Linked DNA regions of Homo sapiens: region 1 is linked to region 2. Evidence: fine-mapped expression QTL. A gene starts in region 2. The other region holds a variant in brackets. All regions are shown on one strand. Distances are between the middles of the regions.

Region 1 (4,000 bases), 57 kb after region 2:
TCAAGGGAATCATTGGAAGGCCCACTGCCCCAAGGAATGAAGGTCGTTTGAATCAGAAGCCACTAACCTGATGATCCAGCAGCAGGACTGAGGGTGCCCGGGGCAAGTGCCTGCCCATACCATCACCCTCACAGAGCTCCAGGTATGCTTGACCATTGAGGGCCAGGAGGTTAACTGTCTCCTGGACACTGGCATGGCCTTCTCAATCTTACTTTCCTGTCCTATACAACTGTCCTCCAGATCTGTCACTAGCCAAGGGGTCCTAGGACAGCCAGTCACTAGATACTTCTCCCAGCCACTAAGGTGTGACTGGGGAACTTTACTCTTTTCACATGCTTTTCTAATTATGCCTGAAAGCACCACTCTCTTGTTACGGAGAGACATTCTAGCAAAAGCAGGGGCCATTGTACACCTGAACATAGGAGAAGGAACACCCGTTTGTTGTCCCCTGCTTGAGGAAGGAATTAATCCTGAAGTCTGGACAACAGAAGGACAATATGGATGAGTAAAGAATGCCTGTCCTGTTCAAGTTAAACTAAAGGATTCCACCTCCTTTCCCTACCAAAGGCAGTACCCTCTTAGACCCGAGGCCCAACAAGGACTCCAAAAGATTGTTAAGGACCTAAAAGCCCAAGGCCTACTAAAACCGTGCAACAGCCCCTGCAATACTCCAATTTTAGGAGTACAGAAACCCAACAGACAGTGGAGTTTAGTGCAAGATCTCAGGATTATCAGTGAGGCCGTTGTCTCTCTATACCCACTGTACCTAACCCTTATACTCTGCTTTCCCAAATACCAGAGGAAGCAGAGTGGTTTACAGTCTTGGACCTTAAGGATGCCTTTTTCTGCATCCCTGTACATCCTGACTCTCAATTCTTGTTTGCTTTTGAAGATCCTTCGAACCCAACATCTCAACTCACCTGGACTGTTTTACCCCAAGGGTTCAAGGATAGCCCCCATCTATTTGGCCAGGCATTAGCCCAAGACTTGAGCCAGTTTTCATACCTGAACACTCTCATCTTTTGGTACATGGATGATTTACTTTTAGCCACCCGTTCAGAAACCTTGTGCCATCAAGCCACCCAAGCACTCTTAAATTTCCTTGCCACCTGTGGCTACAAGGCTTCCAAACAAAAGGCTCAGCTCTGCTCACAGCAGAAATACTTAGGGCTAAAATTATCCAAAGGCACCAGGGCCCTCAGTGAGGAATGTATCCAGCCTATACTGGCTTATCCTCATCCCAAAACCCTAAAGCAACTAAGAGGGTTCCTTGGCATAACAGCCTTTTGCTGAATATGGATTCCCAGGTACGGCGAAATAGCCAGGCCATTATATGCACTCATTAAGGAAACTCAGAAAGCCAATATCCATTTAGTAAGATGTACACCTGAAGCAGAAGCAGCTTTCCAGGCCCTAAAGAAGGCCCTAACCCAAGCCCCAGTGTTAAGCTTGCCAACAGGGCAAGACTTTTCTTTATATGTCACAGAAAAAAACAGGAATAGCTCTAGGAGTCTTTACACAGGTCCAAGGGAACAGCTTGCAACCTGTGGCATACCTGAGTAAGGAAATTGATTTAGTGGCAAAGGGTTGGCCTCATTGTTTACAGGTAGTGGCAGCAGTAGCAGTCTTAGTATCTGAAGCAGGTAAAATAATACAGGGAAGAGATATGACTGTGTGGACATCTAATGATGTAAACAGCATACTCACTGCTAAAGAAGACTTGTGGCTGTCAGACAACTGTTTGCTTAAATATCAGGCTGTATTACTTGAAGGGCCAGTGCTGAGAACTTCTCTC[T/C]TGTGCAACTCTTAACCCAGCCACACTTCTTCCAGACAATGAAGAAAAGATAGAACATAACTGTCAACAGGTGATTGCTCAAACATACGCCACTCAAGGGGACCTTCTAGAGGTTCCCTTGACTGATCCCGACCTCAACTTGTATACTGATGGAAATTCCTTTGTAGAAAAAGGACTTTGAAAAGTGGGGTATGCAGTGGTCAGTGATAATGGAATACTTGAAAGTAATCCCCTCACTCCAGGAACTAGCGCTCGGCTGGCAGAACTAATAGCCCTCACTGGGGCACCAGAATTAGAAGGAAAAAGGGGAAATATGTATACAGACTCTAATATGCTTACCTACTCCTCCATGCCCACACAGCAATATGGAGAGAAAGGGAATTCCTAACTTCTGAGGGAACACCTATCAAACATCAGGAAGCCATTAGGAGATTATTATTCACTGTACAGAAACCTAAAGATGTGGCAGTCTTACACTGCCGGGGTCATCAGAAAGGAAAGTAAAGGGAAATGGAAGAGAACCACCAAGCGGATATTGAAGCCCATCAACAGCCACAAGGCAGGACCCTCCATTAGAAATGCTTATAGAAGGACCCTAGTATGGGGTAATCCCCTCTGGGAAACTAAGCTCCAGTACTCAGCAGGAGAAATAGAATGGGGAACCTCACAAGGACATAGTTTCCTCCCCTCAGGATGGCTAGCCACCGAAGAAGGAATAACACTTTTGCCGGCAGCGAACCAATGGAAATTGCTTAAAACCCTTCACCAGACCTTTCACTTAGGCATTGATAGCACCCACCAGATGGCCAAATTATTATTTACTGGACCAGGCCTTTTCAAAACTATCAAGCAGATAGTCAGGGCCTGTGAAGTGTGCCAAAGAAATAACCCCCTGCACTGCCGGCCATACATTTCAATCCCTGTATCTTTAACCTCCCTGTTAAGTTTGTTTCTTCCAGAATCGAAGCTGTAAAACTACAAATCATTCTTCAAATGGAACCCCAGATGCAGTCCATGACTAAGATCTACTGCGGACCCCTGGACCGGCTTGCTAGCCCATGCTCCAATGTTGATGACATTGAAGGCCCCCCTCCTGAGGAAATCTCAACTGCACGATCCCTACTATGCCCCAATTCAGCAGGAAGCAGAGCAGTCGTCGGCCAACCTCCCCAACAGCACTGGGGTTTTCCTGTTGAGAGGGGGGACTGAGAGACAGGACTAGCTGGATTTCCTAGGCCGACTAAGAATCCCTAAGCCTAGCTGGGAGGGTGCCGCATCCACCTTTAAACACGGGGCCTGCAACTTAGCTCACACCCAACCAATCAGGTAGCAAAGAGCGCTCACTAAAATGCTAATTAGGCAAAACAGGAGGTAAAGAAATAGCCAATCATCTATCACCTGAGAGACAATGATTGGGATATAAACCCAGGCATTTGAGCCAGCAATGGCAACCCCCTTTGGGTCCCCTTCCATTGTGTGGGAGCTCTGTTTTCACTCTATTACATCTTGCAACTGAACATTCTTCTGGTCCGTGTTTGTAACAGCTTGAGCTGAGCTTTCTCTCACTGTCCACCACTGCTGTTTGTCGCCATTGCAGACCCGCCACTGACTTCCGCCCCTCTGGATCCGGCAGGGTGTTGGCTGCACTCCTGATCCAGTGACTCACCCATTGCTGCTCCTGATCGGGCTAAAGGCTTGCCATTGTTCCTGCATGGCTGAGTGCCTGGGTTCTTCCTAATCTAGCTGAACACTAGTCGCTGGGTTCTATGGTTCTCTTTTGTGACCCACAGCTTCTAATAAAGCTATAACACTCTCTGCATGGCCCAAGATTCCATTCCTTGGAATCCATGAGGCCAAGAACCCCAGGTTAGAGAACAAGAGGCTGGCTGCCATCTTGGAAGCGGCCTGCCACCATCTTGGGAGCTCTAAGAACAAGGACCCCCAGGTAACATCAGCTCATCAAAGTCATTCTCCATCCAGCTTTGTTCCATTGCTGGCAAGGAGCTGCAATCCTTTGGAGAAGAAGAGGCACTCTGGTGTTTAGAATTTTCAGCTTCTCTGCTCTGGTTTCTCCCCATCTTTGTGGTTTTATCTACCTTTTTTCTTTGATGCTGGTGACCCACAGATGGGGTTTTGGTGTGGATGTCCTTTTTGATGATGTTGATGCTATTCCTTTCTTCCTTTCTATTTGTTAGTTTTCCTTCT
Region 2 (4,475 bases):
CCTTGAAAGATGGGGAGAAGGTGATGGCAGGAGAGGGGTGGGAGCCATGGAAGGAAGAGCCAAAGGATAGTTTCATACCACTCAGCACAGGGACTGTGAGGATCCTGGCTGATCTGAGGGAGGGAAAGTGTGGAAGAGGGGGACGGCAGTCACGGGGGCTGGGGGGACTTCAGGCTCTGTTGGGGAGGTTGCCCTGGGTGGGAATAATGGCCCAGGTACTCAGAAACCTTAGGTTCAGGAATGATTGGAGGAAACTGGGCCACTAGACGGTGTATCTACCCCAGACTGGCTGCCACTCAAGGTCTGGAGTGAATGGTATGGATGAAAGGGACCGCTCAGGAAGACAACCTCCCTGGAGGAGAGCAAGGTGGGAGCAATGCTTAACCCCAAGGGCTGTCTGGCTTTGATGACATTTGAGGCATCAGTGTGGGGAAAGTGCAGCCACTACATGAGAGGCTGACTTCGAAGCTGGCCAAAGGGGATACCCCTGGACCTGGGGCCTCCATTCTGCCTCAGGAGGATCTGGACAGACAGTGGGGGGTTAACACTCTGGCTTGCATCTGGCTGGGCAGGCTCTCCTCTGACTGCCTCTTCCTCCCACCCCTAGCCCTGGCTTCTGCCTGGGGAGCAGCCCTCAGAAGGAATCTCTGCTGCAGGCTCAGAGATGCTAGGACACCTCAGTCCAGCTGTCCAGCCTCCTCTGCCACCTATCCTATTCCATTTCATCTTCCCCCTCAACAAGGCCTCTGGAGAGACCTGGCAGAACCGGGCCCTTGGACTTCCCCTGTCTAAACACAGCCCCCTTGTCTTTCTCTTCTTTCCTCATGGTCTCCCCTTCAGCCCCGAAGCTTTGCTTTCTGCCTATGGCTAACCCTTCTCCCTTCCCCTCTCAACTCTATCTCCTCTCTCTCAGTGAGGCACTTTCTTTCTGTGGACCCACTCTTCCCTTTCTCTCTCACCTCACCTGCAGCCCGCTCTCCTCTACCCCCAAATAATTTTCTGCTCTTTTCCCCCCAGGTTTCCCCTCTCATTTTCTTCCAGGACTCCTCAGAAGCAAATCTATTATGAGCCCACTGACTGGTCATGAACAGTGCCACCCTCACTTTCTATGGCTGCATCTGCTACCGCCACAGTTGGGGCAGGGCGTCCCTTACGCAGTCAGGAGCAGACCCTGCCCCTGGACACAGCTCTGCAACACCAAACCCTCTTTCCATTTTCCTCAAGCACTGCAAACCACCATAAACCACCACAAAGCCCAGAATCTCCCCAACCGATGAAACCAGAATTTGCAAGAAAAAGAGATTCTGAGCTAGCCCCAAGCAGCCCCGGGGGTGGGGGGCTGTTTGCCGGCTGTTGCCGTCCCCCACCCCACCCCCCAAACAGCCACCCAAGTCCTCCGTAGCTCCTGCCTGTGGGCTGGAACAAGCAGTGGCTTGCCCCTCTCCGTCCCTCTGCCAGCAAGTCCCTGGCGTTCTATAAGCTGGTTGACCCCCTGAACTTTCCCTGCCCAGAAGCGCCCACTCCTCAGCAGGGCCTTGGAAGCACGTGTGTGGCCGATGAGGAAGGTGCCCACCGGGGAGGGCACACACTCAGCGCACAGCCACTCCGCCCGTGCCTTGGTGGTGGCGGGTAGGGAGAGAGGCAGGGCACCCTGGCTGAGCGGGGGCTCCTGCCTGCAGGTGGCTCAGTGTTCCCCTCCGTGCAATGGGGTGAGCAGCCCTCCGTTTCCCAGGGAAGCCTGGCAGTCCCGGTGCAGCTGCAGGGCCGCCACCGGCCTCCGCCCTGGCGCCAGGGCCCAGTCCGTGCGCAAAGGCGGTTCGTCCGCGGCGGGAACGCCGGGCCAGTGCAGCCGGCGCGCCCAGGCTGTCGGCTCCGAGGGGCCGCTCCCGGCCGCCTGGCCGCCGAGCCCCCGCCCCAGCCCGTCCCGGGCCCAGCGCCGCGGCCGTCGCTTACCGTGGGAGGGCAGCGCCCGGCGGCGCCCGGCGCGGTCATACGGGCAGCTGGGTCCCGGCCGGGCGCGTCGGCCGCCCTCGCTCGCTCGCTCGCTCGCTGGCTGCTGCGGAGTGGGCGCCCCGGCCGAGGGCCGCACCGCTGTCCTGGGATGCGGAGAGCGGCTCTGGCGCCGAGAGGACCCAGGCAAACTTTCACTTTCCCCGGGCCGAGCCTCACTGGCCAGCCCTCGGCACAGCCTTTTAAGAGAGGACTGGGGGGCATGTGGTTTATGGGAAATCACCCTGGCCAGGCGCCAGACACACACATACACACACACACACACACACTGACACAGACACACACACTCCAGAGGCCCACTCAGCCGCCTTCCCCCGCCTCCCCTCCCCCACCCGCCGGCCGGCCAGCCCCGCTCGCGCGTCTTCCTAGTCACCCTCTGTCTTCTGCGCTGCACTTCCAAGCCTTCAGCAAACGAGCGCGGGCTCCACCGCGTCCCCACCCTGCCTTCCCCGCGCCCTCTGCGGACCGACCCTTTCCTTCCGCGCTCTCCAGGCTGATTCAGTGCTAGCGCTCTATGATCGTCCCAAGGGACTTTCCCTCCAGGCCTGAAAATCCCCAAATCTTAGCAGAAAACGGACCGAGAGCAGGGACAAGCACTGGGAAGGGAGGGAAATCCTTTGAAGACGCCCCCACCCCATTCTCGGAGTGCCGAAAGGAGTCCAGTGTTACTTGCTCCCTCGTGGAGCCTGAGTCAGCAGGTTTGCCGGCAGCCCCCTTCTTCCTCTGCAGCCCCCAAGCAGCCCGGCCAGCTTCAAGTCCCATTCTGGGAGGGAGGCCAGCTACCTGGCCAGGAAGGGAGCAGCTGTGTCCTGTGACAGCAAGCTGGGGGGCTCTTCCCTGGGTGCCAGCAGACACTTCAAGGCACCTGACCCTTAGATGATGAAAATGCTGGCTGGTACCCATGCTCTCTCCTGGAGGCAAAATCCAACTCAGATTGGAAAGGTCCTGCACCTGGACCCTAGATTTCCCTGGATGTTTTTGGAAATTGCACTTACTGAGGTGATTAATCACGTTTTGTTTCTACATGAGAATGAGTCTAAGTGAGGACTAGTAGGATGAGCCTAAGCCTATTAATTATAATGCCAACTTCAGGAGATTTTTCTTTCTTCAATTCATTATGATTCAATTCCTCTGTGAGGTTGCCCGTTTCCACCCCCTGGGAAATAAAGGATATGTGGCCTGCTCTTGAAGAGGAGTCTCTTGTCAGTAGCGCTACATATCCTTCACTCCAATCCTAGGCAATAATTTTACACCCGAATGCCTTTGCTCAGACTGGTCCCTCTGCCTGGAATGCTCCTTTCTCCACATGGCTGAAGACAAACTCCTCATCATTTCAGGCTGAAATTGCATCTCATCCTCCACCAGCAAAGCCTTCTGTGACTCTCCTGGCAGAGCAAAGGGTCCTTTTCCTGTGTTCCCATTGGACTTGGCTCATTCCTCAATGCTGGCTCTGATAAGTCATTTGCCATCCATTCATTCTCCACAGTACTTTTCGAAGTGTTTAAGGTGGTACCGATGGTTACATTCTGTCCCCACCCTAGACCGAGACTTCTTCCAGGTGGCACCCATGCTCAGTCACCTCTGGATCAATGGTACCTAGCACATAATAGGTACCAAGTTAATGATGGCTGAGTTGAATGATGCCATTAGAGAATACTTTGTTCTTTTGACAAATATGTGCTACCAGATGCTAGGCACCGTGCTGGGCCCTGGGGATACAACAATGACATGGTCACTGTACAATAATGATTTCAGATAACATGTTGACACCACAGTTCTTAAGACTGATAAAAGGTTAGAGGAAGTAACCTGAGAAAGATAAACCAACAGACTTGTTGAGAAAGGGGTCCAGTTTTACTTGCTCCTTCCTTCACCAACCCAGCCCTGGCCCAGGTTCACTGAGGCTGGCATTTGGACTTTGCTCAGCTTCTGGAGGAACGTAATCATTCTCCACGTTGGTGCAAGGCCTGAGGTCCTCATTCCCCGCACTGGAGTTCTTTACATACCCTGGTTTGAACCTGACTCCACTACTTACAAGTGATTTGACCTTGGTAGCTCTGCCAAGTCATTTGCTGTGTGACATTGGACAAACTTCTCTCAGTTCCCATGTCTATAAAATAGAGATGTTAATTTCTCTCTCTGACCAAGGTGTTATGAGTATTGAATGAGATAAGGCCTGTGAAGTATTTAGCACAGGGCCTGAAGACAGTAAGTGCTATTGTTATTATTATCTGTTCACTCACATGGGTTCTAAAGCAATGACACCACAATGGTGCAGTGGACTTGGGAGTCCCAAGGCCAGATTTTAGTCCCAGCTCTGCCATTCATTTGCTGTGTAACTTTGCTGTGTAACCCCTTAGCCTTTTGGGCCTCTCTTTCCTCATTTGTACAGTGGCAATTTTAAGACTTTCCCCAAAGGAGTGGTCATGAGGTCAAATGGGCTGACATATGGGAGTCCCTAGGGC

The links. PIP is the estimated chance that this variant, and not a neighbour inherited with it, causes the effect.
Region 1: its variant is fine-mapped to the expression of CSF1 in whole blood (TOPMed, PIP above 0.99).

Annotation. Positions count from the first base shown.
Region 1 is chr1:109,851,979-109,855,978 of GRCh38, reverse strand. All of the region lies in intron 4 of LINC01768 (long intergenic non-protein coding RNA 1768), which reads right to left. Among named protein-coding and RNA genes, the nearest start is that of LINC01768, 26 kb to the right of the region's middle. The variant T/C (reference allele first, on the strand shown) is at 1,796.
Region 2 is chr1:109,908,541-109,913,015 of GRCh38, reverse strand. CSF1 (colony stimulating factor 1) reads right to left here and starts at 2,167. Exons shown (of 9, transcript NM_000757.6): 1 at 1,954-2,167. The coding sequence starts at 1,992. RefSeq lists enhancers at 781-880, 957-1,457, 1,458-1,958 and silencers at 1,744-1,853, 1,904-2,073.